2 separate regions of the Homo sapiens genome follow, and region 2 is linked to region 1. Evidence: fine-mapped expression QTL. A gene starts in region 1. The other region holds a variant in brackets. All regions are shown on one strand. Distances are from middle to middle.

The links. PIP is the estimated chance that this variant, and not a neighbour inherited with it, causes the effect. A credible set is the group of variants that fine-mapping cannot tell apart.
Region 2: its variant is the best candidate, but not a certain one, in a credible set for the expression of BBC3 in sun-exposed skin (GTEx, PIP 0.69).

What each region holds. Positions count from the first base shown.
Region 1 is chr19:47,228,918-47,233,116 of GRCh38, reverse strand. It overlaps BBC3 (BCL2 binding component 3), which reads left to right and starts at 1,918. Exons shown (of 4, transcript NM_014417.5): 1 at 1,918-2,188. RefSeq lists enhancers at 382-651, 78-701, 1,411-1,530 and silencers at 1,671-1,900, 2,041-2,760.
Region 2 is chr19:47,191,292-47,195,501 of GRCh38, reverse strand. The region is part of intron 6 of SAE1 (SUMO1 activating enzyme subunit 1); the gene reads right to left. Among named protein-coding and RNA genes, the nearest start is that of MIR3190, 34 kb to the left of the region's middle. The variant G/A (reference allele first, on the strand shown) is at 2,133.

The DNA of each region.
Region 1 (4,199 bases):
GGCGACAGCGCGAGACTCTGTCTCAAAAAAAAAAAAAAAAGTAAGATCCATGTAAGTGATGTCATATGTCATAATCCATGGTTTACTCATGACCCACAGTTTGGAAAACACCAGGAAGAAGGAAGGGACAATGAATAATCGGGGAAAGCGAAAGAGGAGGGAAAGTGAAAGAGGGAGGAAAGCTGAGGAGTTCCCAATGTTGCAAATGGGGAGATTTCACGTGAGATATAGATTACCTGCATCTCTTGGGGGAGCTAAGAGTGTGTACTTGGAGGCAGTCAAGTTTGAGAAGTCTGACATCCTTACTCAGCCAGCCCCACACTAGGCACTGGAAGGTGAGTCACTCTGGTGAGGCGATTGCGATTGGGTGAGACCCAGTAAGGATGGAAAGTGTAGAGGAGACAGGAATCCACGGCTTTGGAAAAAGGAAGGACAAAACTCACCAAACCAGAGCAGGGCAGGAAGTAACAATGAGAAACTGAAAAAGAAACGGAATGGAAAGCTATGAGACAGGATGAAATTTGGCATGGGGTCTGCCCAGGCATGTCCATGCCAGGTGCCCAGGGCTGCTTCCACGACGTGGGTCCCCTGCCAGATTTGTGGTGAGTGTGGCCAGGTGTGCATGCTCCGACGTGTGTGCAGTGGGCCAGTTAGCAAGAAGCTGTCACAGGTGTGACTTTGTGACATGTGTGGGTGGTCAGTTTCTTCTATGTCTGATTTGGTTTGTGTCTCTGAATGTCAGTTTCTTTCCTTTATTTTTATTTTTAAGACGGAGTTTGCTCTTGTTGCCCAGGCTAGAGTGCAATGGCACTATCTCGGCTCACTGCAACCTCCGCCTCCCGGGTTCAAGCAGTTCTCCTGCCTCAGCCTCCCAAGTAGCTGGGATTACAGGCATGCGCCACAACGCCCGGCTAATTTTGTATTTTTAGTAGAGATGGGGTTTCATCATGTTGGTCAGGCTGGTCTCGAATTCCTGACCTCAGGCAGTCCACGCACCTTGGCCTCCCAAAGTGCTGGGATTACAGGCATGAGCCACCGTGTCGGGCGAATGTCACTTTCTGATAGTTTTAATGTGTTAGCTGTGAAATTGTGTGAGTGCATTTGTGTATGTCCCTGTGGGAGTGTGATTTGGATTTGGCCGTGTATCCAGGTATCCCTGTAACAGGTGTCTGTGTGTATGTGTGTGTCCCCTGTGCCTATCAGCAAGTTTGTGTTTCCTGATAAGCACTCCGCCTATGTCTGTGTGGTTGCACCACCGTGTGTGTGGTGTGGGTGCCTGTTCGGTAGGGTTGTTTGTGAACACAGTTTGTGGGCCCAGGTGTGATCATCAGTGTGGGTGTTTCTGCAACTGTGTGTGGCCCTGTCATTGTGTCCGTCTGCTTGTCCAGGGGACCCTGTTAGTGAGTCTGTGCATTTCCGTCTGGGTGTGTGTAAGTGTGAGCCCCATCAGTATGTGAGTGTGTGTGCTCATGCCCCTGTCCATGGTGTGGATTTGCGAGACTGTGGCCTTGTGTCTGTGAGTACATCCTCTGGGCTCTGCCTGCACGTGACTTTGTGGACCCTGGAACGCCCGTCGGTCGGTCTGTGTACGCATCGCTGGGGGTGTGGATCTGTGGGTCCCAGTCAGTGTGTGTGTCCGACTGTCCCGGTGTCTGGGCGATCTCCCCACACCCCGCCGCACAGCGCCTGGGTCCTCCTTGCCTTGGGCTAGGCCCTGCCCCGTCCCCCGCTGCAGGGAAACCCCCGGCGCGGAGGTAGGGGGGGGCGCGGCGCGCGCCTGCAAGTCCTGACTTGTCCGCGGCGGGCGGGCGGGGCCGTAGCGTCACGCGGGGGCGGGGCGTGGGACCCGCCGGGCGGGGGCGGGGCGGGGCGGGGCGGGGCGGCTTTGGAGCGGGCCCGGGATCCGCCGGGCGGCCTGAGACGCGGCGCGAGCCACATGCGAGCGGGCGCCTGGCGGCGGCGGCGGCGGCACCAGCGATCCCAGCAGCGGCCACGACGCGGACGCGCCTGCGGCCCGGGGAGCAGCAGCAGCCACAGCCACAGCAGCCGCCACTGCAGTTAGAGCGGCAGCAGCAGCGACAGCCACAGCAGCAGCCGCCGCGGAGAGCGGCGCTCGGCGGGCGCGCCCTCCTGAAGGAAGCCGCCCGCCCCCCACCGCCGCCCCCTCCGGCGTGTTCATGCCCCCGGGGTGAGTGTGCGCGCCCCGAATCCTCTCCGGCGGCGATCGGCCAGGCCGGGTGGACTCCCTGGAGGAGGTGACAGGAGTGCAGGCGGAGAGCAGTGTGGGCGCCCTGCCTCCCCACACCGCGCCTCTCCAAACCCCGCGAGGGACCCTGGGCCAGGGTCGCCGGGTGAGAGGCGGCTCGGCGTTGGGGCGCCGGTCTGGGCGCACAGGTGCCTCGGCGGTCTGGCGGGTTTGTTTACAAACAATGGGGTGCGGGCTCGGCAGCGCCCCCTGGCGGCCAGTGCGGCCCCGGGGAAGAGGGTCGACCCCAGGGGTGCCCCAGCCCCCAAAGTCCGGGAGGGGCGGGGGGGCGGCACGGAGGGGCGGCCACACCCAGGGCGCGCGCCCGCTGGGGGCGGCGACGGGGGGCGGCTCGCGGGCCGTGGAGTCTGCGGCTCCTGCGGGCGGGGGCTGCGCCCCAGCAACAGCCGGTTATTGGCCCCGCGCTCGCCTGGCGGGCGGGGCGGGCGCACGTGGCGGCGGTGGGGGGGGCTGTGACAGCGGAGGGGGGTGTCTGGGACCGCCGTGGGAGCGCGCGTGTGCGGGGTTGTGGATCTGCAGGTGTCTCGCCTGGGTGTGTGCGCGTGTCTGGCTCCGAGTTTGTGCTGGGTTCTGCAGGGAGTGGTGGTGTCGATCCAGAGGAATGTTGGGGTTTCTGACCCGTCGGGGTGTCTGCGTGAGTCCCCGCGCCTGTTTGTGTGGGGTTCTGTCTGTGGGTGCCCTGCTTGTGGGGTGGGTGGACCTGCGTGTGTTGTCGGTGAGAGTTGTCTGTGTGTGCTGTTCCGGGATGATACTGGGGGTCTGTGGTGCCTGCGTGTGCTGGGGTGTGGAGGTTGTAGTGTGTGTGTGTTGCTGGAGTGAGCTGTTTGTGTGTTTATGTGTGTGTCTTGCCCGAGCGTGCGATATGTGTGCTTGTGTCTTGCCTGTGTGTTTCTGTCTTGGCTGAGGCCGTCTCTGTATCTCCGGGGCATGTGTCTTTTGCCCAGCGTTTGTGATGCTGCGCCTGCTAAATGCAAATGTCTGTTTTCTGTCCAGGTGTCTGTGTGAGTTGTCAGGTGTGAGTGTGTGTGTGTATGTATGTGTGTGGTGGGGGGTTGTTTCAGTCTGGGTTTGGCTTGTGTGTCTGGCATCAGCGTCTGGGATTTGAGGACCCAGGATCTGTGGGGTCTATGCAGTGTAGACGGTGGGTGTTGCTGGCAGCCTCTGGATGGGGTTGTGTCTGAGCCTGTGTGTGTGTGTGTGTGTTGGGTCTGAGGGGCTTGTCACTGTGATCGGCTGGCTCATGTGTGTCATGTGGGCTGCGTGTGTGTAGTGTTTATGTCAGTCACGTGAGACCAGTGTTTTCTGTGGGTGCGCTAGGTGTGTGTGCTGCTGGGCTGTGTGGGATTAGAGTTAGCTGTAGGGTGTGTGTGTGTGTGTGTTGCTGACAGTTGGTGATGATGTTTGAGGGTTGCGTGAGGAGGGTGGGTTGGTGTCTGGTGGTGTGTTGAGGTCTGATGGCATGTGTCTGTGTGTGCCTGATCTACGTGTGTCCTGAGAGTTGGTGACATGTGGGTGTGTTTTGGGGGTGTTGATGTATGTGTGTCCGTGGGTGTCTGTTTTGTGTTGATATGTGAGTCCAGAGGTGTGCAGGTCTTATCTCTGGAGTGAGTGTGTGTGTGTGGAGAGGGGCATGTTTGGGAACTGAGGCAGTGCCTAGCTTGTGTGTGTGTGTTTGTGTTTGCAAAGGCTGCATTGTGTTTGCATGTGCCCCTGGGCATATCAACAGTGGGTCAGTGTGTGAGACTTTGACAGTTTGGATGTGTGGGGATGGATTGTGCCAGCCAGTGTGCGCAGTATGTAGAGTGCTTGTGATGGTCTGTCTGGATGCTCCTGCTTTGGTCGGGGGTGTGTGTGTATTGTGTGTACTGAGTAGTGATGTCCGAGACTGGGGCCATCTCAGTGTTTGTGTGCAAGTGGGAGGTGGGGTGGGCGG
Region 2 (4,210 bases), 38 kb after region 1:
TCCCCATAAATGGATGTTTAATTTTGGTTGTGAACCAGAGGAAAGGTTCAGATGATGGCTGTGAGTCAGAACTACTGTGTAAGAAGACCCCAACAAGGCTATAACTTTTATCCCAAATAAAGACAAATAGGAGCAAAAGACTAATTAGGCTGGGTGCAGTGGCTCACGCCTGTAATCCAAGCATTTTGGGAGGCCAAGGCGGGTGGATCATCTGAGGTCAGGAGTTCGAGACCAACCTGGCCAACATGGTGAAACCCGGTCTCTACTAAAAATACAAAAATTAGCCAGGCGTGGTGGCAGGCACCTGTAGTCCCACTTAGTCAGGAGGCTGAGGCAGGAGAATCGCTTGAACCCGGGAGGCAGAGGTTGCAGTGAGCCGAGATCGTGCCACTGAACTCCAGCCTGGGCAACAGAGTGAGACTTCATCTCAGAAAAAAAAAAAAAAAGACTGGCCAGGTGTGGTGGCTCACGTCTGTAACGTCTGTAATCCCAGCACTTTGGGAGGCCGAGGCAGGCAGATCACGAGGTCAGAAGTTAGAGACCAGCCTGGCCAACATGGTGAAACCCCGTCTCTACTAAAAAAATACATAAATTAGCCAGGCGTGGTGGCGCACGCCTGTAGTCCCAGGTACTTGGGAGGCTGAAGCAGAAGAATCACTTGAACCTGGGAGGTTGCAGTGAGCTGAGATCGCGCCACTGCACTTTGCCTGTGCGATAGAGCGTAACTCCATCTCAAAAAAAAAAAAAAAAAAAAGACTGATTAACATACCAACACCTTCTAACTGCCCACTACACCTTGTCCACAGGTAACCTGCCTGCGGGCGGGCAGGCATTCTTGTTCCCTACATACTGCCCAAGGAAAGGGCACAGCCAGTCTCGAGCCTTGTCTCTAAGGACAATACTCTTTCTCCCACATCACACAGGCTATTTCAGAACAGACACAGAGACATGGATCAGCTTCTAGGCCCAAGCCCTGAGTGCTTTACACCTGGAGAGGGGGCTTTACAGTTTGTCAGTTCTTTCATTGATATCTCTTCCGTATATGTTGATTGAAAAAGTAGACTTATTCAGCAAATTATACTCTCTACCAGGACAAGGGTTCCTACATAAAAATTAAGGTAAATTCAAGTTGCTGTGAGGCTCTTTAAAAAATACAAGTATTTGGTACCCACCCCAGACTGAAGCATCAGAGTCACACTTTTTAAAGACCAAATAGTTTTGGTAATGAGCAGCCTGTGTTGAGGGCCATTCTCTAAGTAGAATTCATTCACTCCACCAGCCTGGCACTTACTTTGTGCCAGACAGACCTGGGTGCTAAAGGTCCAATGGCGAGTGAGTGAATCTTGGTCTCTGCATCTGTGAAGGCAATGGGTGGGAGAACAACTGAGGAGGACACAGTTTTAGAAGCTACAACAGGTGGCTCCACTGAAGCCTGGGAGACGTTCAGAAATGGGTTATAAAGTGTTCCAAGAAGATCTCAAACCACAGATGCCCAGGTAAAAAAAAAAGACACACCCTGCTTCTGGGCTATGCTTTTCTCAGTGCCAATGTCAGACAAAGGCCCCTGGCCTGTATTTCTCTGGTAACTTCCACCTGTCCAGTATAGACGGGGCTCTGCATATCAGAGAAGAGGTAATTTCTTTTTCTTTTTCTTTTCTTTCTTTTTTTTTTTTTTTGAGACAATCTTGCTCTGTTGCCCAGGCTGGAGTGCAATGGCGTGATCTCGGCTCAATGCAACCTCCACCTCCCGGGTTCAAGCCATTCTCCTGCCTCAACCTGCCAAGTAACTGGGGATTACAGGTGCCTGCAGCCACACCCAGCTAATTTTTTGTATTTTTAGTAGAGATGGGGTTTCACTAAAAATAGAAAAATTCCTGGTCTCAAGTTCCTGACCTCAGGTGATCCTCCCACCTTGGCCCCCCAAAGTGCTGGAATTACAGGCGTGAGCCACAGCACCCAGCTGGTAATTTCTTTAAAAAAAAAAAGGAAAGAAAAGAAAAAAGCTCCAGAACACCCATTGACTCTTCTGAATACTGTTTGCTTTCTGAGAATGTTACTCTCTTCTCTTTTTCAAGAACACAGCTTCTGCAACCCTCAATGCTACCTCAACACTTGGCAGTCAACTCAAAGCT[G/A]TAACAATTGGCCAGGTGTGGTGGCTCATGCCTGTAATCCCAGCACTTTCAGAGGCTGAGGCAGGTGGATCACCTGAGGTCAGGAGTTCAAGACCAGCCTGGCCAACACAGCGAAACCCCATCTCTACTAAAAATACCAAAAAAATTAGCCGTGCATGGTGGTGGGTGCCTGTAATCTCAGCTACTCGGGAGGCTGAGGCAGGAGAATCTCTTGAACCCGGGAGGTGGAGGTTGCAGTGAGCCGAGATTGTGCCACTGCACTCCAGCCTGGGCGACAGAGCAAGACTCTGTCTCCAAAAAAAAAAAAAAAAAGGCTGTGACCATCTAGACGATCTGGATGCCAGAGAGCACTGATCTGCTACCACCCAATACTTCTACTTTTGTAGATGTCCTGCTGGTATTCCGATTGTAGTAAATAAATGCAACTGAGTAACCATTTTGGGGCAGGGTAGAGAAATGACTGCAGAAGTGGCAAGTACTGCCTGTTTGGACCAAGCCTCTTTTCAAAAAATGTCCCATAAAATAAAGGAGGCCAGGTGCAGTGGCTCACACCTGTAACCCCAGCACTTTGGGAGGCTAAGGTGGGCAGATCACTTGAGGTCAGGAGTTTGAGACCAGCCTGGCCAACATGGTGAAACCCCATCTCTACTAAAAATAGGAAAATTAGCCGAAAGTGTGGTGGGTGCCTATAATCAAGTACTTGGGAGGCTGAGGCAGTAGAATTGCTTGAACCCAGGATTCAGAGGTTGCGGTGAGCCGAAATCACACCGCTGCACTCCAGTCTGGGCTACAGAGAGAGGCTGTCTCAAAAAATAAATTAAGTAGCCGGGCATGGTGGCTGATGCCTGTAATCCCAGCACTTTGGGAGGCCAAGGCGGGTGGATCACGAGGTCAGGGGTTCAAGACCAGCCTGGCCAAGATGATAAAACCCCATCTCTATTAAAAATACAAAAATTAGCTGGGCATGGTGGCGGACGCTTTTAATCCCAGCTACTCGGGAGCCTGAGGCAGGAGTCGCTCAAACCCAGGAGGCAGAGGTTGCAGTGAGCCGGTATCGTGCCACTGCAATCTAGCCTGGGTGACAGAGCGAGACTCTGTCTCAAAACAACAACGACGACAACAACAACAACAACAAACCAGTAGGAAGGGTGATAATAATTACCCGCTCACCAGGTTATCGTGAAGATCACATGAGTGCTAAGCCATGTGAAATGTTTAGTATAGTGCCTGACACATAGTAGGCACTATAACGCTTTGGGCTTTGGTGCTCCCAAAGCTATATTTTCTTTCTCTCTCTTTTTTCTTTTTTTTTTTTTGAGACAGAGTCTCGCTCTGTTGCCCAGGCTGGAGTGCGGTGGCGCGATCTCGGCTCACTGCAAGCTCCGCCTCCCGGGTTCACGCCATTCTCCTGCCTCAGCCTCCCGAGTAGCTGGGACTACAGGCGGCCATCACCACGCCCGGCTAATTTTTGTATTTTTAGTATAGACGGGGTTTCACCGTGTTAGCCAGGATGGTCTCGATCTCCTGACCTTGTGATCGGCCCGCCTTGGCCTCCCAAAGTGCTGGGATTACAGGTGTGAGCCACCGCGCCCGGCCTATTCCCACAGCTATGTTTTCAAACCAAAAGATGAAAAGCTTTGTGGTAACAGCTGAAAAAAAAAATCACCTCCTCTTGTTGGTCCCTTGTGACAGTTGGTGCTTGTGTCCCAGTAACAAAGAAATAAGATCGCACAAGAGTCATCTAGCACAGGGTTCCTGCCACTGTCCATCACCTTGCACCTGGAAAGCAGGCAGCCTCAGTTTCCACGTGACTGCTGCAAGGCCTCAGACTGTGCCCTATAAGCAGCCCATGCACAGCTTTGCCTCCATCTGCTCAGGCAGTGTTGATACCCTTTCTGGGTCTTGTTGCCCTGTTCTCTCAGGAGTGACTGACAGGACTAGCGTTTAACATTTGATGCAATATCCTCTGCTTTGGCTATACTAACAGATGGCTGGATTCCTTTATTTTTATTCATTTATTTACTTGTTTTTGTTTTTCTTCTTTTTTTTTGAGATGGAGTCTCACTCTGTCACCCAGG